Homo sapiens: one gene and its partners. The main gene of each other region encodes a partner of the protein of the gene in region 6 in a complex. Each region holds a gene or a part of one and is shown on either strand. Other genes may lie near its edges. The genes, in order: SNRPF, TXNL4A, PRPF31, PRPF3, SART1, LSM3 and SNRNP40.

Region 1 (2,344 bases), on a different chromosome or scaffold from region 6:
GAGGTTTCCTTCACAATTAGGCACGTGGAAAAGGAAAAGAAAAATAGGGCTTAACAATAAGGATTAAAATAGGATGTTTCATAAGGCATGAAAAACATGGTAATGAACACTACTACTGGATGTTACTCCCTTTCTTATAGACAACAAAAAGTAATCTCCATTATCCAGATGATATAGTTTTGTCTGAAATATACGAGGTTGTTGAGACAGTTTGTATGTAACAGCTATAAGAAATAATGTATTAAGAGCAACTAATTTTTTGTAAAAAGTAATTACAACATTTAACATTTCTAAATTACACAATAATGTTCCAAATACTTTCTATCATGTTCTTCACCATCACTTAACAGGCTCTCTATGGCCGCCATTTTAACCTAACTTTCTGTCATTCGTCCCTTAACTCAATCTGCTCTGGCCTTTTTGCTGTGCCTTGAACACACCAAGCATGCTTCTGCCACAGGGCCTTTGTACTTGCTGTTCCCTCAAACTGGGATGCTTTTCCCCAGATACTCAACTGAGTTGTACACTAATTCTGGTATCTTCCAGAATTCGCCTCCTCAGAGAGGCTACTCTATATAATATTGCACATACTGTCTTCCCCCTTTTCTTCATGGATGGCATCTATCATGCCTATTATCACATTATATTACCACCTCCCACCACTAAACCATAAACTGTTGAGGGCAGGGACTTTGTTTTGTTCAATGCTATATTCACAGTGCCAGGCACATAATGGAATTCAATAAATATTTGCTGAGTGAACAAATTCAAACACTGGTATCAATATGGTTGACTACTCAAAGTGGTTGGTTACTCAGACATTTTGCAACTCTAGCAGGGTCACTAGCAAGCTATATTAATTCTAAAACAAATATTAAGTGGTAATTCTTTTATTATTGAGATGTTAATTTCCATAGCATAAAATTCACCCTTTTAAAGTGTACAATTCAGTGGTTTTCAGTATATTCAAAAACCTGTGCAACTATCACCACTACTTCCAGAATATTTTCATCACAATTCATATACTTCCCAGATTTTTCTATGGTCTTGGTAAATGACTCCTGTTTAAGGAATTTTCCACACTCAAACTATGCTTTGGGGGCCTTAATGTCATGTGCTCAGGTGGTAATTGCCTAAGTTAAGGAAAATCATAGCTCTCTGCCTACTTAAGTACTCCTTTTAGTACTCTGCTTACAAGTATGGAATCCTTGGATTCATGATTGGATTGACCACCTGTCTTGATAGCCTTTAAAAACCTGCCTGGAAACTACTACCATTAAAAAAACAACAAAAAATCCCAAACTAATTTTTTAAATGTGCAAAAGACATGAACAGGCATTTCTCCAAAGATAAACAAATGGCCAATAAACACATGAAAAGGTGCTCAACATCATTAGCCAAATGCAAATCAAAACCACAATAAGATACCACTTCACACCCATTAGAATAACTATTTTATAAACACCCATAGAAAATAACAAGTGTTGGTGAGGATGTGGAGAAACTGGAACCGTTGTGCATTGCTGGTGGGTATGTAAAACCACGTAGCTGCTGTGGAAAATAGTGTGACAGTTACTCAAAAGAAAAAAAAAAATTTCTCTGTCATCCAGGCTAGAGTGCAGTGATCACAGCTCACTGCAGCTTCAACCTCCCCAGGCTCAGGTAATCCTCCCAACTCAGCTTCCTGAGTAGCTGGGAATATAGCTGCCCACACCATCATGCCTAGCTAGTTTTTGTATTTTTTTTGTAGAGATGCAGTTTCACTATGTTGCCCAGGCTGGTCTCAAACTCCTGGGCTCAAGCAATCTGCTGCCTCAGCCTCCCAAAGTGCTGGGATTACAGGCATGAGCCACCACGCTTGGCCTCCTTAAAAAATTAAACATAGAATTACCAGTAATCCAGTAATTCCACTTCTGGGTATATACCCCAAAGAGCTGAAAGCAGTGACTGGAACAGACATTCGTATACCCATGTTCACAGCAGCATTATTTACTACAGTCCAAAGAGGGAAGCAACCCAGTGTCCACCAAGAGGCAAATGGATTAGAATGTGGTATATCCATATAATGGAATATTATTCAGTCATAAAAAGGAAATTCTGACACATGCTACAACATGGATGAACCTTGAATAATACACTACGTTAAGTCAAACAAGCCAGACACAAAAGGATAATACACAATTCCACTTACATGAGGTATTATGCACGGTCAAATTCATAGACATGTAGACTAGTGGTTACCAGGGGTTAGTTAGGTGGAGGAAGGAATGGAAAATTATTGTTTAATGTTTAATTGTAAAATTATTGTTTAATGGAAAATTATTGTTTAATGGGCAAAAAATTT
Region 2 (3,500 bases), on a different chromosome or scaffold from region 6:
CTGGATGACAGAATCAGCCTAACCCACAGGAGACGGGGCGGCAGTGTGGTCACGGGGTGGCAGGGAAATATCTGTCCTTAGAGAATTCCATGTGTAAAGAGAAAGACACAAGACCAGCAGCCAGGTCTCAGATCCAGCACCAGGGCAAGGAAGCAGAAGTGCAGGACAGTGGGGACCGATGCGCAGGTGGACTGGCCCACAGAGGACCTTTTCCACTTGGGATTCTGGGCCATGTATTTATTTCTAAGAAAGCAGGAATTGAAGAGTTCAGTTTTGTATATACTGAGTTTGAGAAAACTAAGGGACATCCAGAGAAAAAGGCCCTCCAGGTAGCGACTGGCCTGGAGCTGTACAATGGAGTCTGGGCTGGAGAGAGCTACCTTACTGCCGCCACCTACATCCAGCAGTGATCCCAGCCAGGGTGGCAGGTGCCAGGCTTGGGAGTGAGTGCAGAAGCCCACTGTAGAGTTGGGGGCAGGAAAGGGATGCCAAGGAGGCAGTCTCAGAAACCAAGGCAGGAGACTCCGGGGAGCTGTGCCGAGTGCCCCAGAGAGGTTACCAGAAAGGACGATATGGGAACGGGGACACTGCAGGGGCTGAAGGACTGAGGAACAGAGGACTTCAGTGTGGACAACTTTCAAAAGCCGTGGCTATGGAGAGAGAGGGAAGTTACTGTGGGACTTGGGAGTTCAGATAGGAGAGGCTGAAAGAGGCAGGCAGAGGGGAGCTCCCCAGCCTCCCACCACCCCATTTTCTTGGTGAAATGGCATCTGTGGGGTGACTGGAGGAGCATGAGCTGAGGGCAAACATCAGCAAACATCCAGCAGCATCTGCTGGTGGCGACATTTCCACGGTAACCAAGCGCTTGGAGGAGGAGCTGGGTGAGTGCAGCCACACTGCTCTGCCAAGTCATCCTGTGACTTCCTCAACAAAGGCAGCTTTTTCTTTTCTTTTTTAGATGGGATCTCACTTTGTCACCCAGGCTGGAGCAGAGTGGCGTGATCTCGGCTCACTGCAACCTCTGTTTCCCAGCCTCAAGAGATCCTCCCACCTCAGCCTCCCGAGTAGCTGGGATTACAAGCGCCCACCACCACATCTGGCTAAGTTTTGTATTTTTAGTAGAGATGGGGTTTCAACATGTTGGCCAAGCTGGTCTCGAACTCTTGACCTCAGATGATTCGCCTGCCTCGGCTTCCCAAACTGCTGGAATTACAGGTTTAAGCCACGGCGCTGGCCTCAAATTGTTTTTAAATTCTTTGATTGCCTTGAATTGTAAGTATCTTTTCCAACTCTGTTGCCTATACACCTCATAAGCATGCTTTTTCTTTAGGCAAGTCAGCAATTAAAGTGCTCAGCAGTTCTTCCGCATGCCTCTAAGTCCACCTGCCAAGTTACAATGACATAACTCTGCAAAACACATGACCAAACTGGCACATGATACCAACCACTGTTCTACACTTTTGTATGGAGTCCCTCAACCAGCTAAGAAAACACCTAAAATTCCGGAAAAAGTGTTCTGGGCAGTTGATTAGCACAACAAATTTTTGAAGTGTTTATTTTTACATTTTTAGGTAATTCATGTCAAAGCCATAAAAAAAACTGAAAAACTTGACTTTCTAAAATTAATGTTTGCCTTAATCAGCTCTCACAATAACTTGCAAACTTAGTAATGTGAGAGAAGTAATCACAGTAATAACAGTGGCATTACTGCCCATGTGACAGGAGTGCTCTAGAAACCTTTATTAATCCCACCACAACCCTATGAGTGAGGCACAAGTATGCCCTTTTTACAGGTAAGATGACCCACGGGGCCAAGTTCGTAACGCTCATGCAGTTATGAAGTGCCAAGAGCCTAGCTAGAGTCTGCACCCTCAACCGCCGCTCAACACCACTCCTCATACCTTGTGGCTAGAGTCTGCACCCTCAACCGCCACTCAACACCACCCCTCATACCTTGTGGCTAGAGTCTGCACCCTCAACCACGGCTCAACATCACCCCTCATACCTTGTGGCTAGCTACAAGGCTGTTTTTTTTCCAGAGACAAAAATCCAGAGGAAACACCAAAAATATCCATTCTGTTTGTTTCTACAAGATTCCTCATCTAGCTGAGTGTTGACTCTCACTGGTTCAGTAGGCGTTCTGTGATCCTTAATGTGATACTTAAGATACACCCCTTAATATGGCTCCTATGAAGTTCCATAAATATATATCTGCCTTACACACAATTTATTAGAATGTACTATCATGGGCCAGGCATGGTGGCTCACACTTGTAATCCCAGAATTTTGGGAGGCTGAGGTGACTGGCTCACTTGAGGACAGGAGTTTGAGACCAGCCGGCCAATATGGCAAAACCACATCTCTACCAAAAATACAAAAATTAGCAGGGTGTGGTGGTGGTGCAGGCCTGTAGTCCCAGCTACTCAGGAGGCTGAGGTTGCAGTGAGCCAAGATCGTGCCACTGCACTCTAGCCTGGACAACACAAGAAGACTCTTGTCTCAAACAAACAAAAAAAATGTACTATCATGAGTCAATAATATTACTGAGGAATTTTTTTGTTTTGTTTTTAGAGATGGGGTCTCGCTCTATCACCCAGGGTGGAGTGCAACGGCACGATGATAGCTTACTGCAGCCTTGACCTCCTGAGCTCATACTCTGTCTTAGCCTCCTGAGTAGTGGGGTTACAGGCACATGCTACAATGCCCAGCTCACTGAGACTATTTTAAACTCTATTTGCGTGGGCTTTTTAACACAAAAAATAAACGTCCCATTCAGTCTTCTCACCCATCATGGGATTTAGGTAACAGTGAACCCCAAGCACTGCTGTGAGTGTTCCTACAAAATGGAAAGACAGCTCAAAGGCACATGAAATTGTCCCCTCTGAGAGCGTTCCTACAAAATAGAAAGACAGCTCAAAGGCACATGAAATTGTCTCCTGTGACGGCGTTCCCACAAAATGGAAAGACAGCTCAAAGGTCCATGAAATTGTCTCCTGTGACGGTGTTCCTACAAAATGGAAAGATAGCTCAAAGGTACATGAAATTGTCTCCTGTGATGGTGTTCCTACAAAATGGAAAGACAGCTCAAAGGTCCATGAAATTGTCTCCTGTGACAGTGTTCCTACAAAATGGAAAGACAGCTCGTACATGAAATTGTCTCGCTTCAAAACTGCATAAAATCAGCTGCTAAATAGAAAACTTTTTTTTTTTGAGACAGGGTCTCGCTCTGTCACCCAGGCTGGCATGCAGTGGCGCGATCACGGCTTGTCACAGCCTTGAACTCCTGGACTCATATCCTCCCACCTCGGCCTACCAAGTAGTTGGGACCACAGGCACATGCCACAACGCCTAGCTAATGTTTGCATTTTTTGTACAGACAAGGTTTCACCATGTTGCCCGGGCTGTTCTCGAACTCCTGGGCTCAAGGGAACCACCCACCTCGGCCTCCCAAAATGCTGGGACCACAGGCGTGAGACACAGTGCCCAGATGAAAACTTTAT
Region 3 (3,230 bases), on a different chromosome or scaffold from region 6:
GCTGGTTCATGCCTGTAATCCCAGCCCAGGAGTTTGAGGCTTTAGTGAGCTTCATCGCATCACTGTACTCCAACCTGGGCAACAGAGACCCCGTCTCTAAAAAACCCAATCATAACAGGACCTGGTTATAGGGCGCTGATGGCAAGTCCCATGCTAAGTGCTTTCTGTGCATTCTTTCCAGTCCTGGGCACCTGGGCGTAGGTGTGGAGGCTTGGAAAGGTGAGGAGGCTGGCCTGAGGTGGACAGCAATCCCGGTCGGCCTGCGCTGAGATCTGCGGCTGTTGGCAGCCACATCATTTGCTATCAAAGTGACTGCGGCTCTCCAGGGGGTTGGAGAGGGCTTTTTCCTTCTGGGATCCCATGACGAGAAAGTAACGGGGAAGGGAGTGGGCCTAGACACCGCTTGGACCCGAGGGCCAAGCTCTTTTCTCAAAGCTCCACAGCTCTGATTCTTCTAGTTGCCCCGGCTGTTTGAAAAATGATCACTCCCCAAGGACAGATCTTGACAATGTCCTTTTAATTGTACTCTTTTCAAAAAATCTCCTTTCTCAGTTAAAAAAGACAAGGCATGATGAAGACCTGCTCTAGCCCATACTGGGCGGTGATCTCGGTCCTGGGGGAGGCCAGGCCGGACTCTTCCAAGGCCTCCTCCCTGGGCAGTCCCAGCAATGGGGCCAGTGGCAGGGCAGGTTCTCCCTGCCAGAACCCGATCCTAGCCCTTCAGAAGGACTGGACCTCTGTGTCCCTTCAGTGGGAAGCCACCTTGGACACACGCAGTCATTCAGGTGGACATAAGGCCACTCTTCTCGCCCTTGACCTTGAGGAACTCAGCCATGCTGGAGAAATACTTCTGGTTGGCCTCAGCCACCTTCTTCTCTGCCGCCTGTGGGTTCACAATCTCCAGGCCCTGGGCAGGTGAGGGAGAGAGGATGATGGGTTAGGTGAGGAGAAGGCCCCAACTGTGACCCATCAGAGCCCCCCAGGCCCTTCCCCATGGCACTCAGGCCTTGGTGGGCATGAGACAGTTTGCCTGTCCCTGGAGTTGCCCTGTCTTGGGAGATTCTGACTCAGTGGGTCTAGAGGGAGAGGGTGGGGAGGAACCAGGGCGCCTGGATTTGTACGAAGTTCCTCAGGGGTGCTAAAAACAACCAATGCTTGAGGACAGCCAATCCTGCCCAGTTTCTGCATAAGGAAACTGAGTCCCTGGGGGACATGGCTGGCCCGAGGTCCTAGCACAAATCACACCAACACCACTGACGATCATAGTGGCAGCAATGGGAGCCAACACCTGGCTGGCACTTCCTAAATATTTTCAAGGCAACAGAGCGAGCCCCCGTCTCTAAAAATAATAACAGGACCCAGTCATTGGGCTCTAATGGTGAGCCCAGTGCCAAGTGCTTCCTGTGCGTTCTTTTCAGTCCTGAGCACCTCATGATGGAGGAGGGGAGGCTTGGAAAGGCACAGCCACTGGCCTCATCTTCTCAAAGAGGCCCTCCCTGGCTGCTCCGAAACGAGAGCCTCCCCTGTCCCACCTCCTACCTTCCACCTCCTCCCCTCCCTGGCATTTCTGCCTTCTTTTTTTTTTTTTTGAGACAGAGTCTGGCTCTGTCGCCCAGGCTGAAGTGCAGTGGCGCGATCTCGGCTCACTGCAAGCTCCGCCTCCCGGGTTCACGCCATTCTCCTGCCTCAGCCTCCCAAGTAGCTGGGACTACAGGCGCCCGCCACCACGCCCGGCTAAGTTTTTGTATTTTTAGTAGAGACGGGGTTTCACCGTGTTAGCCAGGATGGTCTCGATCTCCTGACCTCATGATCCACCTGCCTCGGCCTCCCAAAGTGCTGGGATTACAGGCGTGAGCCACCGCGCCCGGCCTGGCATTTCTGCCTTCTACTACACTGGGCATCTTACTGAGCTGTCTGCGCCCGGCCTGGCATTTCTGCCTTCTCCTACACTGGACATCTTACTGAGCTGTCTGCGCCCAGCCTGGCATTTCTGCCTTCTCCTACACTGGACATCTTACTGAGCTGTCTGCGCCCGGCCTGGCATTTCTGCCTTCTCCTACACTGGACATCTTACTGAGCTGTCTGCGCCCGGCCTGGCATTTCTGCCTTCTCCTACACTGGACATCTTACTGAGCTGTCTGCGCCCGGCCTGGCATTTCTGCCTTCTCCTACACTGGACATCTTACTGAGCTGTCTGCGCCCGGCCACCCACTGGCTCCAAGAAGGTAAGACTTGTCTCTCATTCGTTGCTTCATCCCCAGAGCCGGGAACACTGACAGAACTCAGCAGGTGCTGCGTAGACACCCGCTGACTGGGCAGATGAGCTCGCTGCTGTCTCGCCTCCGTGGTGCAGGCTCGCCCTGCTCTGTGGATGGTAAACCGAGGCTCCGACGATGCGGTGACTGCCATGCTCCACGCTGCTCACTGCTGACTGGCTGGGGCCTGGACCCACACTTGACATCCAAGCCCGCCTAGCCGGGAACTTTCTCGAGTGGGGTCCTGAGGTTACCTTAACCGTCCTGGCCGTTTTGAACTGGAGGGCCTGGAGGCTGAGCAGTGTTACCCGCTCACAGCCCGACAGAGGAACTGGGTGCCCTGAACACAGCTGTGGGCCTGGTTCTAAAGCAGTGCGTGCTCACGAGGACTGCTCAGCGCTGGGCTCTCGTCTCTGCTAACCTCTTCCTGTGTGCCAGGAGCTGTCTACGTCCTCTGCATACCTCGTCACCACACCCTCCACAACAGCCCCATGAGGAGACTCATCCTGGCCTTCTTCACAGGGGCAGAGGGCAAGGGGCCTTGCCAAGGTCTCAGGGCTGGGGACAGAGCCGGCCCAGGGGAGGTACCTGGAGTGGGGTGAAGGCCACGCTGGAGGCCGTGCCCGAGGAGCGGTCGCGGATGGTGGACTTCCCGCCATATACGACGCTCTGCTTCTGCAGGGTCCGCTGTGGGGAGGACAGGGAGGCTGCGATCTGGGCTCCCCCCACCTTGTGTCCCTCGGTCCCCAGCCCCACCTGGGTCTGGCCCATACCTGCAGCGTCTTGGAGATCCTGGCCTTGGTGGCCTCGTTTACCTGTGTCTGCCGCACACGCCCACTGCCCGACTTGCCCAGGTGGCCCAGGCTGAATCCCAGGTCCTCCTGGTAGGCGTCCTCCTCGATCTAGGGGGGAGAGGAGGCGCCCTGCAGTTCAGCGACCAGGCCCTGCCCTCCAGCCACCGAGGCACCCCCTCCA
Region 4 (3,500 bases), on a different chromosome or scaffold from region 6:
TACCTGGCAAATGTAGAAAACAAAATTAGGGCCAGGTGCGGTGGCTCACGCCGGTAAACCCAGCACTTTGGGAAGCCTAGGTGGGCAGATCACTTGAGGTCAGGAGTTCAAGACAAGCATGACCAACATGGCAAAACCCTGTCTCTACTAAAAGTTCAAAAACTAGCCAGGTGTGGTGGCAGGCACCTATAATCCAAGCTACTCCGGAGGCTAAGGCCGGAGAATAGCTTCAACCCAGGGGGGTGAAAGTTGCAGTGAACGGAGATAGTGCCATTGCACTCCAGCCTGGGTGACAAAAGCGAAACTCCAACTCAAAAAAAAAAAAAAGGCCGGGCGCGGTGGCTCACACCTATAATCCCAGCACTTTGGGAGGCCAAGGCTGGCAGATCACCTGAGGTCAGGAGTTCAAGACCAGCCTGACCAAACATGGTGAAACCCTGTCTCTACTAAAAATACAAAATTAGCTGGGCGTGGTGGCACATGCCTGTAATCCCAGCTACTCAGGAGGCTGAGGCAGGAGAATTGCTTGAACCCAGGAGGCAGAGGTTGTGGTGAGCTGAGATCATGCCGTTGCACTGCAGCCTGGACCACAAGAGCGAAACTCCTCCTCAAAAAAAAAAAAAAAAAAAAAATAGAAGCAACTTTGTTTCCCAGTTTCAACTTTGGGAAACTAACAAAAAGCCCTTTGGAATTAGCATCCCTCACAGTGGGTAGTGGAGCATATCGCATCTAATAACACACCAACCCAAGAGTTTGGCTCTTGCATTTGCATTTAGCTGTGGATGCCACAACAACATGTGGTTCTATAAAAGGAGCAAGCTGAGGGCTCTTTCCTAGGAACAACCAGGGAACTGTAAATGTAAAGCTTCATGAAATTTTGGGTTTTTTTCTTTCTTTCTTTCTTCTTTTTTTTTTTTTTTTTTTTTTGAGACAAGGTCTGGCAGTATCATCCAGGCTGGAGTGCAGCAGCACCATCTCAGCTCACTGCAACTTCCACCTCCCAGGCTCAAGCCATCCTCCACACCTCAGCCTCCCAAGAGGCTGGGACTACAGATGCACACCACCATGCCCGGCTGATTTTTTATTTTTTGTAGAGATGGGGTTTTGCCATGTTGCCTAGATCTCGAACTCCTGAGCTCAAGCAATCTGCCCACCTCAGCCTCCCAAAGTGCAGTGATTACAGGCATAAGCCACCATACCCAGCCAAATTTTTTTTCCTTGAGATGGGTCTCACTGTGTTGCCCAGACTGGTCTTGAATTCTTGGCCTCAAGCAATCCTCCTGCCTTGGCCTCCGAAAGTGTTTGGATTAGAGGCATGAGCCACCATGCTTGGCTGTCTCATGAAATTCTAAGCACAGGAATATGCACTTAAAATGTATGTTCACTGGTCAAACAACAAACTATTGTCAGGAAAAAAACTGAATTAAAAAAAAGAATTACACATGGGTAGTGGCTATTGTATTGAACAGCATAGATACAGAACATGTTCCTCACTGTATAAATTTCCAATGGGTAATGCTGCTCTAGAGACTTGATTCAGGAATCTATACATTACCTGGAGGATTGAGCTGGGCTGGATGTTCAACAAGATTTGTGATTCCAAAATAATCTTCTCTCTTGGGATTTTCCTCTGTACTAAAATTGTAGGAAGAAAAGAAAACACGATATGCGGGTAGAGATGATTCTAAGAGAGGAGTCTCAGAAATACAATGAAAAAACCCACTCTCTATAATGGGTTCTTGTGCTTGATATACCTAAAATAGCATTTAGGTACCTAAAATATATAGTTAAATTACACATAATTTTCATGATGAGAAAACTGAGTCCCTCTATGGTTGAACACACTCTCCACAGCAATCATTCTCAACCTTTTTTCTACCATGCCACAGCTGACAGACGCTATGTTCTCTCATTAGTGACAATAAGTCCCTGGAACAGTGGCTGACAAAGAAGGGGCAACGAAAGGCTAAGACAAAATCTACTAAAGCCATGTATCAGAATGATGGAGCAGGGCCAGGTGATGTGGCTTATGCCTATAATCCCAGCACTTTGGGAGATGAAGGCAGGTGGATCACCTGAGGTCAGGAGTTTGAGACCAGTTTGGCCAAATAGTGAAACTCTTGTCTACTAAAAATATAAAAACTGGCCAGGTGTGGTGGTATTTGCCTGTAGTCCCGGATACTTATGAGGCTGAGCTAGAAGAACTGCTTCAACCCAGGAGACAGAGGTTGCAGCGAGCCGAGATTGTGCAACAGAGTGAGACTCTGTCTTAAAAAAAAAAAAAAAAAAAAAAAACGCCAGGCGTGGTGGCTCATGCCTGTAATCCCAGCCCTTTGGGAGGCTGAGGCGGGTGGATCACCTGAGGTCGGGAATTTGGGACCAGCCTGACCAACATGGAGAAACCTCGTCTCTACTAAAAACACCAAAAATTAGCCAGGCGTGGTGGTGCATGCCTATAATCTCAGCTACTTGGGAGGCTGAGGCAGGAGAATCACTTGAACCCAGGAGGCGGAGGCTGTGGTGAACCAAGATTGCTCCACTGCACTCCAGCCTGGGCAACAAGAGCGAAACTCCGTCTCAGGAAAAAAAAAAAAAAAATGGATGGAGCAGATATATTTAAAGCTCTTCAAATGTGTCTTATATCCTTTTTTTTTTTGAGACAGAGTTTCACCCTGTTGTCCAGGATAGAGTGCAGTGGTCATGATCATAGCTGACTGCAGCACAGACCCTCCTGGGCTCAAGTGATTCTCTCACATCAGCCTCCTGGGTAGCCAGGACTACAGGCACAAGCCACCATGCCCAGCTACTTTTTTTTTTTTTTTAATCTTTGTAGAAACGAGGTCTCACCATATTGCCCAAGCTGGTCTTTAACTCCTGGGCTCAAGCAATCCTTCAGCCCTCAGCCTCCCAAAGTGCTGGAATAACAGGTGTCAGCCACCGAGCCCAGCCTTATATGCTATATTTACTATTATCTCACCTACCAACTAATAATCCTTGCTCTATCACAATGAGATCTTTAGGAAATGTAAACACCTATAATACGTAGCAAAAGAATGTAATTAAGGAAAATAATGCTAAAAACAGGCAACAATGTGTAACAGAGCAAAAAGAATTCTAGACTTTGCTTTTGTAGATTGTGTCCCTGGTTATCCTACATTAACCCCAAAAGCTAAAAACAGCCTATATATATGATACATCACTTACAAATGCAGGAGCTTGGCCAGGTGCAGTGGCTCACGCCTGTAATCCCAGCACTTTGGGAGGCTAAGGTGGGCGGATCACCTGAGGTCAGGAGTTCGAGACCAGCCTGGCCAACATGGCAAAACCCTGTCTCTATCAAAAATACAAAAAGCAGATGGGCATGGTGGCACACACCTGTAGTCCCAGCTACTTGAGGGGCTGAGATTCAAGGAGAATTCAAGGAGAATCTCTTGAACCCGGGAGGTGGAGGTTGCAGTGAGCTGAGATCGTGCCACTGCACTCCAGCCTGGGTGACAGAG
Region 5 (3,500 bases), on a different chromosome or scaffold from region 6:
CTACTTGGGAGGCTGGGGTGGGTGGATTGCTTGAGCCTGGAGGCCGAGGCTATGGTGAGCCGTGATCTTGCCACTGCACTCAAGCCTGGGCAACAGAGCAATACCCTGTCTCCAAAAAAAAAAAAAAAAAAAGTCTTCCAGGACATCCAGGAACATTTGTTTGTTTGTTTGTCTTTTAATTTTTATTTCTTTTTGAGACAGAGTCTCACTTTGTCGCCCAGGCTGGAGTGCAGTGGCGCGATCTCAGCTCACTGCAAGCTCCGCCTCCTGGGTTCACAGCATTCTCCTGCCTCAGCCTCCCGAGTAGCTGGGACTACAGGCGCCCGCCACCACGCCCAGCTAATTTTTTTGTATTTTTTTTCAGTAGAGATGGGGTTTCACCGTACTAGCCTGGATGGTCTCCATCTCCTGACCTCGTGATTTGCCTGCCTTGGCCTCCCAAAGTGTTGGGGTTACAGACGTGAGCCACCGCGCCTGGCCAGGAACACTTATTTTTTAATGAACATTGTAAACATAAAACGAGGTATATCTAATGCATCATATGCTACTTATTTATTGAGACCATCTCACTCTATCACCCATGCTGGAGTGCAATGGGGCGATATAGGCTCACTGCAACCTCCACCTCCCAGGTTCAAGTGATCCTCCTCCCTCAGCCTCCTAAGTAGCTGGGACTACAGGTGCATGCCTCCACAACCAGCTAATTTTTGTATTTTTAGTAGAGACAGGGTTTCACCATGTTGCCCAGGCTGGTCCCAAAACCAGCTTCAAGTGATCCACTCACCTCAGCCTCCCAAAGTGCTGGGACTATAGGTGTGAACCACCACACCCGGCTGATATGGTTTTTTTTTTTTTTTTTTTTGAGACAGAGTCTCACTGTTGGCCAGGCTGGAGTGAAGTGGCACGATCTTGGCTCACTGCAACCTCCACCTCTCGGGTTCAAGTGATTCTCCTGCCTCAGCCTCCTGAGTAGCTGGGATTACAGGCATGCACCACCATGCTCGGCTAATTTTTTTTTTTTTTTTTTTTTTTTTTAGTAGAGAGGGGGTTTCACCATGTTAGCCAGGATGGTCTCAATCTCCTGATCTTGTGATCCACCTGCCTAGGCCTCCCAAAGTGCTGATATTACAGGTGTGAGCCACCGCACCCAGCGGCTGATATAGTTTTTAAAACATTAACTAAACACACACCCATGTCCCTCTCCCTGGGGCTGGGGCAGCATCACTAATGCCCTGCCCAGACTTGAGTGTCCCCTCCCCATCCATGGTCATGACTCACCGGCTTGTCTTCATGGCTTTAGCACATAAGGACCTGCCCCTGAACAGTTATTTTGTTGTGTATTAATTATTCTATAACCTGAGTCACACTGTATGACTCTTCTGTGATTTGTTTTGTAAAAAAATCTGTGCCCCTGAGAGTAACCCTGATGCACACGGCTGTAGCTCATCAGTTTCCACTATGGAATCACAGCCCGTGAGCTGGATGCTCCTTGATCTGGCTCTCTAGCCCACTGAGGATGGACTTTTTTTGTCCCAAGTACTGCGGCTGCAGGCCCACTGACAATGTCTCCTGGTGCACATGGGCACACTCGGGAGAGGTGTGGGGTGGGCCCCGGGCACGCACACATTCCCTCTCATCTGATTAGACTCCTGCCCATGGCTGTGAGTAGCGTGGCTGAGGACTCTGGCCGCTCCATGTCCTTTACTCCTACTCGCTACTGTCAGGCTTGGACCTTTCTGCGGAATTGTTGGCAGGTGGCAGGTGCCTCACTGTTTTGGTTCACCTTTCTGTGATCCCTCCTGAAACTGGATTCACCGGGTATTTTCCTGGTGAGTTAGGCTTTCTCTTCTGTGAACTGCCTGTCTTATCTACATCTTTCGCCTATTTTCCTGTTGTGTTGATTTGTTTTGTCTGTTTGTATACTCTTGACACCAACCCATTCTTGGTGGTATATATGGGCAAATATCTTCTCTTTTTGGTCTGCCTTTTTATATTCTTCATGGTATGTTTTGTAAAAAAACAAAAAACAAAAAACTTACGTTCTCAATTTCTTTTTTTTTGAGACGGAGTCTTGCTCTGTCACCCAGGCTGGAGTGCAGTGGTGCGATCTCGGCTCACTGCAAGCTCCGCCTCCTGGGTTCACACCATTCTCCTGCCTCAGCCTCCCTAGTAGCTGGGACTACAGGTGCCCGCCACCACGTCTGGTTAATTTTTTTGTATTTTTTTTAGTAGAGACAGGGTTTCACTGTGTTGACCAGGATGGTCTCATCTCCTGACCTCGTGATCCGCCCGCCTTGGCCTCCCAAAGTGCTGGGATTACAGGCGTGAGCCATCGCGCCCGGCCACGTTCTCAATTTCTATGTAGTTACACGTTCACTTTTTTCTTCATGGTTTCTTGAAGAAACTCACCCATGGAACCTGTGGGTTTCTTGGTTTTTTTTTTTTTTTGAGACAGGATCTTGTTCTATCACCCAGGCTATCATAGCTATCTGTGATATAGTCAGCTATAGTCTATCATAGCTGACTATAACCTCGAACTCCTAGATTCAAGCAATCCTCCTGCCTTAGCCTCCGGCGTAGCTGAGGCTTCAGACACATGCTACCATGCCCAGCTAATTAAAAAAACATTTTTAGAGATGGGGTTGGTAGGGGGGGTGGTCTTGCTGTGTTGCCCCAGGCTGGTCTCAAATTCCTGGCCTCAAGCAATTCTCCTGCCTTGGCTATGCTGACAACTTAAAAAATCTTTTCTACCAAAAAGTTATAAATGTAATTTCCTTAATTTGATTCCGAAATGTGAAGTTTTTACTTTGAAGTTCTTAATCTATCTGCAAGGTGTGAGGTATAAACCCAATTTCATTTTTTCCCCAAATAGATAACTGACTGTCCCACGCCCACTCGCTGCACTGACGAGCGACTCTTCCCACTGGGACACGATTCTGTCTCGGGGCCCCGCTGTCTGGTCTCTCTGTTCTGTTAGTCTATCCTTATGCAATCCCACACTGCCACAATGCCCCTACTTTATCCAATTTCAGAATCATTTTCCAGCTTCCAAAATAATCCCTATTGGGATTTTTACTGGAGTTGCATTTAACCTAGAAATGAACTACATGAGATGGACATCTTGACAATATATTGTCCTATCTAGGAATTGTGTAACCCCTAAATTCATATCGGGAAGCCCTAACCCCCAATGACTGTATGTGGACAGAGCACCTTTAGGAGGTGGAAATTGCAGTGAGCTGAGATAGAGTCACTGCACCCCAGCCTGGGTGACAAAGTGAGACACTATCACAAAACAAAACAACCCCTCAATTCCAAGGATCCTTTCTGTTCTCTCCAGCCTTTCTTTCTAGCTCATTGACTGTATTAACTTCAATCCAGTAATTCTTCAACCACATCACGACTCCAGGCCCTGTCCTCACACCCATCATTCTCTGTTATGTCCCTCATTACCCAGTTTAGACTCAGGGGGAAATCAACAGAACCTCTCCTTTGTGAAA
Region 6 (3,500 bases):
ACAGTAGCACGATCTCAGCTTACCGCAACCTCTACCTCCCAGGTTCAAGTGATTCTCCTGCCTCAGCCTCCCGAGTAGCTGGGATTGCCAGTGCCTGCCGCCACGGCCGGCTAATATTTTGTATTTTTAGTAGAGACAGGGTTTTGCCATGTTGGCCAGGGTGGTCTCGAACTCCTGACCTCAGGTGATCCACCCGCTTTGGCCTCCCAAAGTGGTGGGATTGCAGGCATGAGCCACTGCACCCAGCCTTTTTTTTTTTGAGACAGCGTTTCACTCTTGTTGACAAGGCTGGAGGGCAATGGCACAATCTCAGCTCACTGCAACCTCCGCCTCCAAGATTCAAGCAGTTCTCCTGCCTCAGCCTCCCAAGTAGCTGGGATTATAGATATATGCCACCACACCCAGCTAATTTTTTGTATTTTTAGCAGAGACAGGGCTTCACCATATTGGTCAGGCTGGTCTCGAACTCCTGACCTCAGGTGATCCACCTGCCTCAGCCTCCCAAAGTGCTAGGATTACAGGTGTGAGCCACCATGCCTGGCCAGGTTTTTTTTTTTTTTGAGACGGAGTCTCGCTCTGTCGCCCAGGCTGGAGTGCAGTGGCGGGATCTCGGCTCACTGCAAGCTCCGCCTCCCGGGTTCACGCCATTCTCCTGCCTCAGCCTCCCAAGTAGCTGGGACTACAGGCGCCCGCCACTACGCCCGGCTAATTTTTTGTATTTTTAGTAGAGACGGGGTTTCACCGTTTTTTTAGCCGGGATGGTCTCGATCTCCTGACCTCGTGATCCGCCCGCCTCGGCCTCCCAAAGTGCTGGGATTACAGGCGTGAGCCACCGCGCCCGGCCCAGGTTTTTTTAATGAATAAATATTTAAAAAATTTTTCAGTTTCAGTTTCTAATAAATTAAGTATTAATAGATCAAATCCACAGAAAACGAAAGAACACTGTCCACTATTACTGTTACACACTATTATACATAGCCACCTTGCATTGTTGTATCTCACTGAATCTGGGAACCCTATGAGGTAAGTGGTAGTATTCCTGCTCACCAATGAGAACTCAGCTAACTTAATTCCCTTGCCCAAGGTAGCCCAAGTAGGAAGTGGTCAAGCCAGTACTGGCAACAGGGTCTGTCAGATGCCAGAACCCTTGCTTTTAATTGCTATGCTCTACTGAGTCCATAAGTAGGTGTCAAAACATGACAGGCTTCCCATAAATATGGGTTAAGCTGTTCGAGAGAGAACAGCTGATATTTGCAAAGCAATGAATAGAATTGCATGACTTACTTTATATATCTCTTCATATGTTTCTTCATCAATTTCTATAGTAGTCACAGTTTCTTCCACATCTCCCAAGATCATATTTAAATGTTGATCATAAGCCTAAAGTGGGAGGGTACAGAACCAAGAAATTTAATAATCAAATTACAAAAATGATAAAGGCTTAACAATATGCAAATTGCTCAATTACAACTAGGGCATTTGATACTTACATCACAAACTTTTACATGCAAATAAAAAGTAATCCTACAGTACTAATATACTGTTTCTTCACAAGTCACTTCCAATGATTACTTAATTGACCTGATAAAAATATAAAACTGCTTATATTGCCAAAAATAAATTTACTTCAAATCACTTGAAATTATTTTTAAAGTCTCCACCCCACTTGTTATCTAAGGCAGTCACATCATTTATAATATTTAATTATGAAAAACAGCAGATTCATCTTCATCATTTATCAGTAGACATCCTTCAATTTCACCTATAACAATCTGACAAGAAAAATACAGTAAAGAAGATAAAATCCTTTGTTTACTGGTAAGATAATGCCATTGCAGTCTTCTAAAGGCACACAGTAGACCACATGTCGCAGAGAGAAAGTAAGTAGAGCAACACCCTGCCCATTTCTAACCTATCCAGAACTTAAATGTGTTTAGTACCTGTGGGCTCAATCAATAAATGTTACAGCTAAGATATTCAATCCAAGCTCCAAAGTTCATTCATTTTACTAAAAGGTGCACTTTCTGGGACCTTGTTCAGAACTCAAGTTTACTTCTAACAACGTGTTACATGGTTCACCTGCTCACATCAAAATAAAAGTCACTTGTCAGCCATGTGGGGAACTGCTAAGCAGGGCACACTAACAAGATCAAACATGTATAGCTGAGAGGCACAAAACAAACAGAAAGTTGGGGCCATTTAGGATAGAGACCATCAAGTTTACACAGGGAACTGAAGAAGCCTCCAAGAGCCACAAACTTAAGTAATTAAACTCAATTCCATTTGTATTCCCAAAGTTACCACCATTCCTTTCCTGGAGTCTCTCTTCCTTTAAGGCCAGCTGTAGATTGTCTCCCTGGGTCCCTATTTCCTTTCCAAGCCCAGAGGTTCTTTATCTTTAGGTTTTGTGGAAGGCGGAACCACAGTACTTAAGAGTGGGGCTCAGGTCAGACAACCTAGATTCAAATTCTGGCTCTCCCTTTACCGTCAAGTGACTGTACCTTTCTGAGCCTGAGCTTCCTACACTGCAAAGCAGGAATAATTAGTATGTATCATCATAGGGTTGTTATAAAGATTAAATGAGATATCACACACAAAATGCTTAGAATAATAGTACCTGGTCTATAATTAATGCTCAATAAATGTTAGCTATTTTTAATCACTTTAGGGTAGAGTAGCAATACTAAAAACAACACACTTAGGAAAGTAACAAGTCATTAAGGAGAGGCAAAACCTTCAGGGTTCTCTATGAACAAATGGGATTATTTCAAGGGACCAATTCTACAGATATTTTGCAGATATGCACAAAGAAATATGTAAAAAAATGCTTACTGCAAGTATTTACGTATTTGTAGCAAGAAATGAAAAAAAATCGATCACTATCATATACAGAATCCTAGGTAGTCATTAAAAAGAATAAACGAAAATTAAATGCACTCATGATCAATTTCCAAGAAAGATTAAGTGAAAAAAAAAAAAGGTACTGAAAAACATGTATGGCAAGATCCATGTTTTGTAGAGGTAGGGTGTACATAATGCAAGTATGTGCACATGTACATATATGAGTGTATATGTGTAAACATACAGAAAAGGTAACCCAATTTTTAAATTTTATTTTTTGTAGAGACAGGGTCTCTCTATGTTGCCCAGGCTGGCAACACAGAGAACTCCTGGCCTCAAGTGATCCTCCTGCCCCAGTCTCCCAAAGTGCTGAGATTACAGGAATGAGCCACTGCACCTGGCCAAGATAATCCCATTTTTAGTAGTGATTACCAGTAGAAGAAATGGGATTTCACTTTTTACTCTATATATTTTTGTGCTGTTTAACTTTTCCTAATAAAACACATATTTGTGTTTTAAATTTAAAAAACATTTACGAATGGAGGACAAGTAAATATTATTTACAAATAAACAGAAGGGAAAAATGAAGGGAATAAAAATGTTCTATAATAAACGTATTTCTATTAAAAGAAAAAATGTTAAAAATGTGAATACATGCC
Region 7 (3,500 bases), on a different chromosome or scaffold from region 6:
AGAGGCCTCCTGGGCACCCAGCTGAAATTAGTATCATGTCAATCAATGGCAGATGCTGTTTCCTCGGTGGGCAAAGTCCAACTTGACATACTGCTACCTGTTAAGGCTCTTTTCTTTTTCAAGCAGGAAAACACATCTAAATCCCAATAACTGGGGCTAGCTGAGGGGGCAGGAAGGAAAAATGTCACACACAATGTTGGTAATTTGCAACAGAATGCAGTTGGGTGTGATACTAATTTCAAAAAGATATTTTGCAAGATTTCTCTGCCAGCTTAGTCACATCCAGCAAAGCTTCAATGTGACAAACTAAATACCAGGAACTACTGTGACAATGAACTTATAAAAGCCAAACTTACATCGCCCTTTCCTAATTTCCCTCATATGGGCACCTGATAGTCTAAGACTGGACAAGGTCAGATATATATAAAATATATAAAAGGTCAAATAAATCAAAAAAGCACTGTACCATACCAAAAATCAGAAAAAGTAAACATTGATTCTATCTCTGTTACATATTTGGGTGATGTCAGGTAAACAGTGAGATTGTTTGTGTCTTGGTTTTTCTGTTCTGTAAAATGAAGAGAAAATTATCTGTCTTCTTTTTAAAATAATATTATTGACTGATATGATTGAGATGGAGTTTCGCTCTTGTTGCCTAGCCTGGAGTGCAGTGGCGTGATCTCGGCTCACTGCAACCTCCGCCTCCCAGATTCAAGTGATTCTCCTGCCTCAGCCTCCCAAGTAGCTGGGATTACAGGTGCCCACCACCACACCTGGCTAATTTTTGTATTTTTAGTAGAGATGGGGTTTCACCACATTGGCCAGGCTGGTCTCAAACTCCTGACCTCAGGTGATCTACCCTGCCCAGCCAATAACACTATTTTAAAGATCCAATGAGATGATATATGTGCAAAGGTTCTAAAATTTGTAGGCAACAAACAAAAATAAAGAATTTGTAATTGTATTATGCAGCCACAAGAAATTATTCTATTATTTTTTCCTTATTTTAGTATCAATCTAGGAAACCTCATTGTTCCTCATAAAGAACGCTAGAATTAGCTAGGCATGGTACTTGGGAGGCTTGCCTGGGCCCAGGAGTTTGAGACCAGCCTGGGCAACACAGCAAGATCCTGTCTTATCAAAAAAATTAAGGAAAAAATATTTTTTTAATGCTAGATTAAATGTGTATAAACATCTATTGTAAGCAGTAGCTATAGCCGTTGTAACTGAAGCTATACCTATAGTGGAATTTCAGTGATGTCATTTTATTTGAGTATGAAAAAAGTATTATCAATCCTTGGAGTCAGACAGGCATAAAAAGGCAAAGCTATGCGTGAAAGTTTGCCATTGAGAATATAGTTAAAAGGTAAAGATGTCCATTAATTCAACAAATATTTATTAAGTACCCAATGAATGTCAGGTATTGTTTTTGTTACAAAATGTCAGGGAATACATTTTAGTTCCTGACAAGCCTATAATTTTGTATACCAGGGCCATTTCCAAACTCCCTCAACATTAAGCATATAATCCAGCAAGTCACCTTACTTTTTTTCTGTAGTAACCCATCCTCCCACCCTACAACTCAAAAACAAGTAAAGAGAAAGAGCAAGAGTGTGTTCGTGTAAATCCAGAATGTTTTAATGAAGACCTCTTCCCACACCAATGCTTTCAGAGTGGGGAGGGAAGACAGACTGGCAGGAAAGAGCAGAAGAGATCATCCAAGCTTGGTGCTCTCTGAAAACGCACAAGAACTGCCTTGAATAGACTTCTAGATTCACATCTTTTTCATTAAACTCATCACCTAGAGTTTCTAATATCCTGTTGGATACACAGCATACCAGAGCTGAGATGGGTCTTAAAGGTAAAGTCCAATCTTCTTATCAATGTAGAAACTGATGCCTAGAGAGAAGAAATGCTGTGTGCAAAGTTGTTCAGGGACAAGACAGAGATCTGAGACTACAGTCCTAGATTCTTGACTATCTCACCTAAAGCTTTCCCCATTACAACACATTCTAATCGTCTGATGGAATCTGTGAGCAATCTTTGACTTTTTCCTTGGATCCTGGGAGAGATTTCCTTTCCAAAGTTACCTGTATTGTCCATTGCATTGGACAAAAGATAAGAGCCTTCAGAACTTAAACTCAGGCCAGTCACTGAATCTGCATGGCCTCTCATGGTGTAGGTTAGCTTGTTCTGGCGCAGGTCCCAGACCTGCAAAAACAGAAAGGTGCCCCCAGAAATCAAATTAATAAAAGCAGAGAAAGAGAATGACACAAGAGACAAGAGTCAATTGCCCAGAGACACTGATATTACTCTACTATAAAACACAGGATTTCTGTCAAAGAGAAAAACACCTTTTTTTAATTTTCATTTTTTTTTTGAGACAGCGTCTCACTCTGTTGCCCAGTGCAGTGGCACTATCATGGCTCGCTGTAGCCTTGACTTCCCGGGCTCAGGTGATTCTCCCATCTAAGCCTCCCCAGTAGCTGGGACTACAGGAGCATGCTACTATACCCAGCTAATTTTTCTGAAGAGACAGGTTTCACCATGTTGCCCAGGCTAGTCTTGAACTCCCGAGCTCAAGCAATCCTCCCACCTCATCCTCTCAGTATTTGGATTAACACGCATGAGCCACTATGCCTGGCCAATCTCTGTCTTTCTAAAAAGGTAGCTCAGGCTACCACGTTTGACTAGATAAATATAAACGAATGCATATCAAATGTTAAGATAAAGTTTTACACACAAAAAAATAGAATTCAGAAAGGTTATTTTCAAATCATAGCAAAGAAAAACTATTATAGAAAAAAACTAAAAATGGCTATGATTCTTAGCCATTAAAAATTATTATAAATACATAAAACGAACATGTCATTTAAAAAAGGCATTATGATTACATGTTTGTGTAACAATATGAAAAATACAGATGCTTAAAATTTTTCTTTTAATGTAACAATATGTGACAATAAATGTATATATATGTACATGTATGGATATGTACATGCACATACACTATGGAAAAGCACATTTATTAAAATAAAAATAAATTACAGGTTCACTATTGCTTGTATAGGAAACGTAAGATACAGAAAATAACCTAAACGTCAAGCAGGAAAAATAGGTGGTTTATTAAATTATGGTTCATAAGCACATTGCAAAACTGAATTCTCATACAGGAGATAGCATGACAGAGTAGAAAGAGTGGTGACTTAGGGTAAGAATAAACTGTTCCTTGCCACTTAGAGTTATGTGTCATTGGGTCACTAATTCTTTCTGGGCCTGTTTCCTGGTCTGTAAGATTAGGGATAACAATAGCTACTTCTTACGGCTGTTGTAAGGATTATAAGAATGCTTAGCATATGCCGGGCACAAGACAGGTCCTCAATAATGTGTAGCTATTGTTAAGCAGTTCCTAAAAATAACTCAGAAGACCAAATGTAAAAATATTTACATAATAAGCTATTAAGCAAAAAAGGAAAATACAAAACAGTATTTATCTTTAC

Evidence for each region.
Region 1: LSM3 (region 6) and SNRPF share a complex: the UniProt entries of both Homo sapiens proteins name them as parts of the U4/U6-U5 tri-snRNP complex.
Region 2: LSM3 (region 6) and TXNL4A share a complex: the UniProt entries of both Homo sapiens proteins name them as parts of the precatalytic spliceosome.
Region 3: LSM3 (region 6) and PRPF31 share a complex: the UniProt entries of both Homo sapiens proteins name them as parts of the U4/U6-U5 tri-snRNP complex.
Region 4: LSM3 (region 6) and PRPF3 share a complex: the UniProt entries of both Homo sapiens proteins name them as parts of the precatalytic spliceosome.
Region 5: LSM3 (region 6) and SART1 share a complex: the UniProt entries of both Homo sapiens proteins name them as parts of the U4/U6-U5 tri-snRNP complex.
Region 7: LSM3 (region 6) and SNRNP40 share a complex: the UniProt entries of both Homo sapiens proteins name them as parts of the U4/U6-U5 tri-snRNP complex.

The regions. Positions count from the first base shown.
Region 1 is NC_000012.12:95,861,952-95,864,295, reverse strand, and holds part of SNRPF (small nuclear ribonucleoprotein F), read right to left. Parts: intron 1-2,344. UniProt on the Homo sapiens protein: Plays a role in pre-mRNA splicing as a core component of the spliceosomal U1, U2, U4 and U5 small nuclear ribonucleoproteins (snRNPs), the building blocks of the spliceosome.
Region 2 is NC_000018.10:79,982,064-79,985,563, forward strand, and holds part of TXNL4A (thioredoxin-like protein 4A), read right to left. Parts: intron 1-3,500. UniProt on the Homo sapiens protein: Plays a role in pre-mRNA splicing as component of the U5 snRNP and U4/U6-U5 tri-snRNP complexes that are involved in spliceosome assembly, and as component of the precatalytic spliceosome (spliceosome B complex).
Region 3 is NC_000019.10:54,128,984-54,132,213, reverse strand, and holds the end of PRPF31 (U4/U6 small nuclear ribonucleoprotein Prp31), read right to left. Parts: intron 3,158-3,230; coding exon 3,029-3,157; intron 2,943-3,028; coding exon 2,844-2,942; intron 908-2,843; coding exon 782-907; 3' UTR 501-781; downstream 1-500. UniProt on the Homo sapiens protein: Involved in pre-mRNA splicing as component of the spliceosome. Required for the assembly of the U4/U5/U6 tri-snRNP complex, one of the building blocks of the spliceosome.
Region 4 is NC_000001.11:150,338,533-150,342,032, reverse strand, and holds part of PRPF3 (U4/U6 small nuclear ribonucleoprotein Prp3), read right to left. Parts: intron 1,636-3,500; coding exon 1,556-1,635; intron 4-1,555; coding exon of another isoform or gene 1-3. UniProt on the Homo sapiens protein: Plays a role in pre-mRNA splicing as component of the U4/U6-U5 tri-snRNP complex that is involved in spliceosome assembly, and as component of the precatalytic spliceosome (spliceosome B complex).
Region 5 is NC_000011.10:65,971,734-65,975,233, reverse strand, and holds part of SART1 (U4/U6.U5 tri-snRNP-associated protein 1), read right to left. Parts: intron 1-3,500. UniProt on the Homo sapiens protein: Plays a role in mRNA splicing as a component of the U4/U6-U5 tri-snRNP, one of the building blocks of the spliceosome. May also bind to DNA.
Region 6 is NC_000003.12:14,181,817-14,185,316, reverse strand, and holds part of LSM3 (U6 snRNA-associated Sm-like protein LSm3), read right to left. Parts: intron 1,381-3,500; coding exon 1,285-1,380; intron 1-1,284. UniProt on the Homo sapiens protein: Plays a role in pre-mRNA splicing as component of the U4/U6-U5 tri-snRNP complex that is involved in spliceosome assembly, and as component of the precatalytic spliceosome (spliceosome B complex).
Region 7 is NC_000001.11:31,269,289-31,272,788, forward strand, and holds part of SNRNP40 (U5 small nuclear ribonucleoprotein 40 kDa protein), read right to left. Parts: intron 2,212-3,500; coding exon 2,091-2,211; intron 1-2,090. UniProt on the Homo sapiens protein: Required for pre-mRNA splicing as component of the activated spliceosome. Component of the U5 small nuclear ribonucleoprotein (snRNP) complex and the U4/U6-U5 tri-snRNP complex, building blocks of the spliceosome.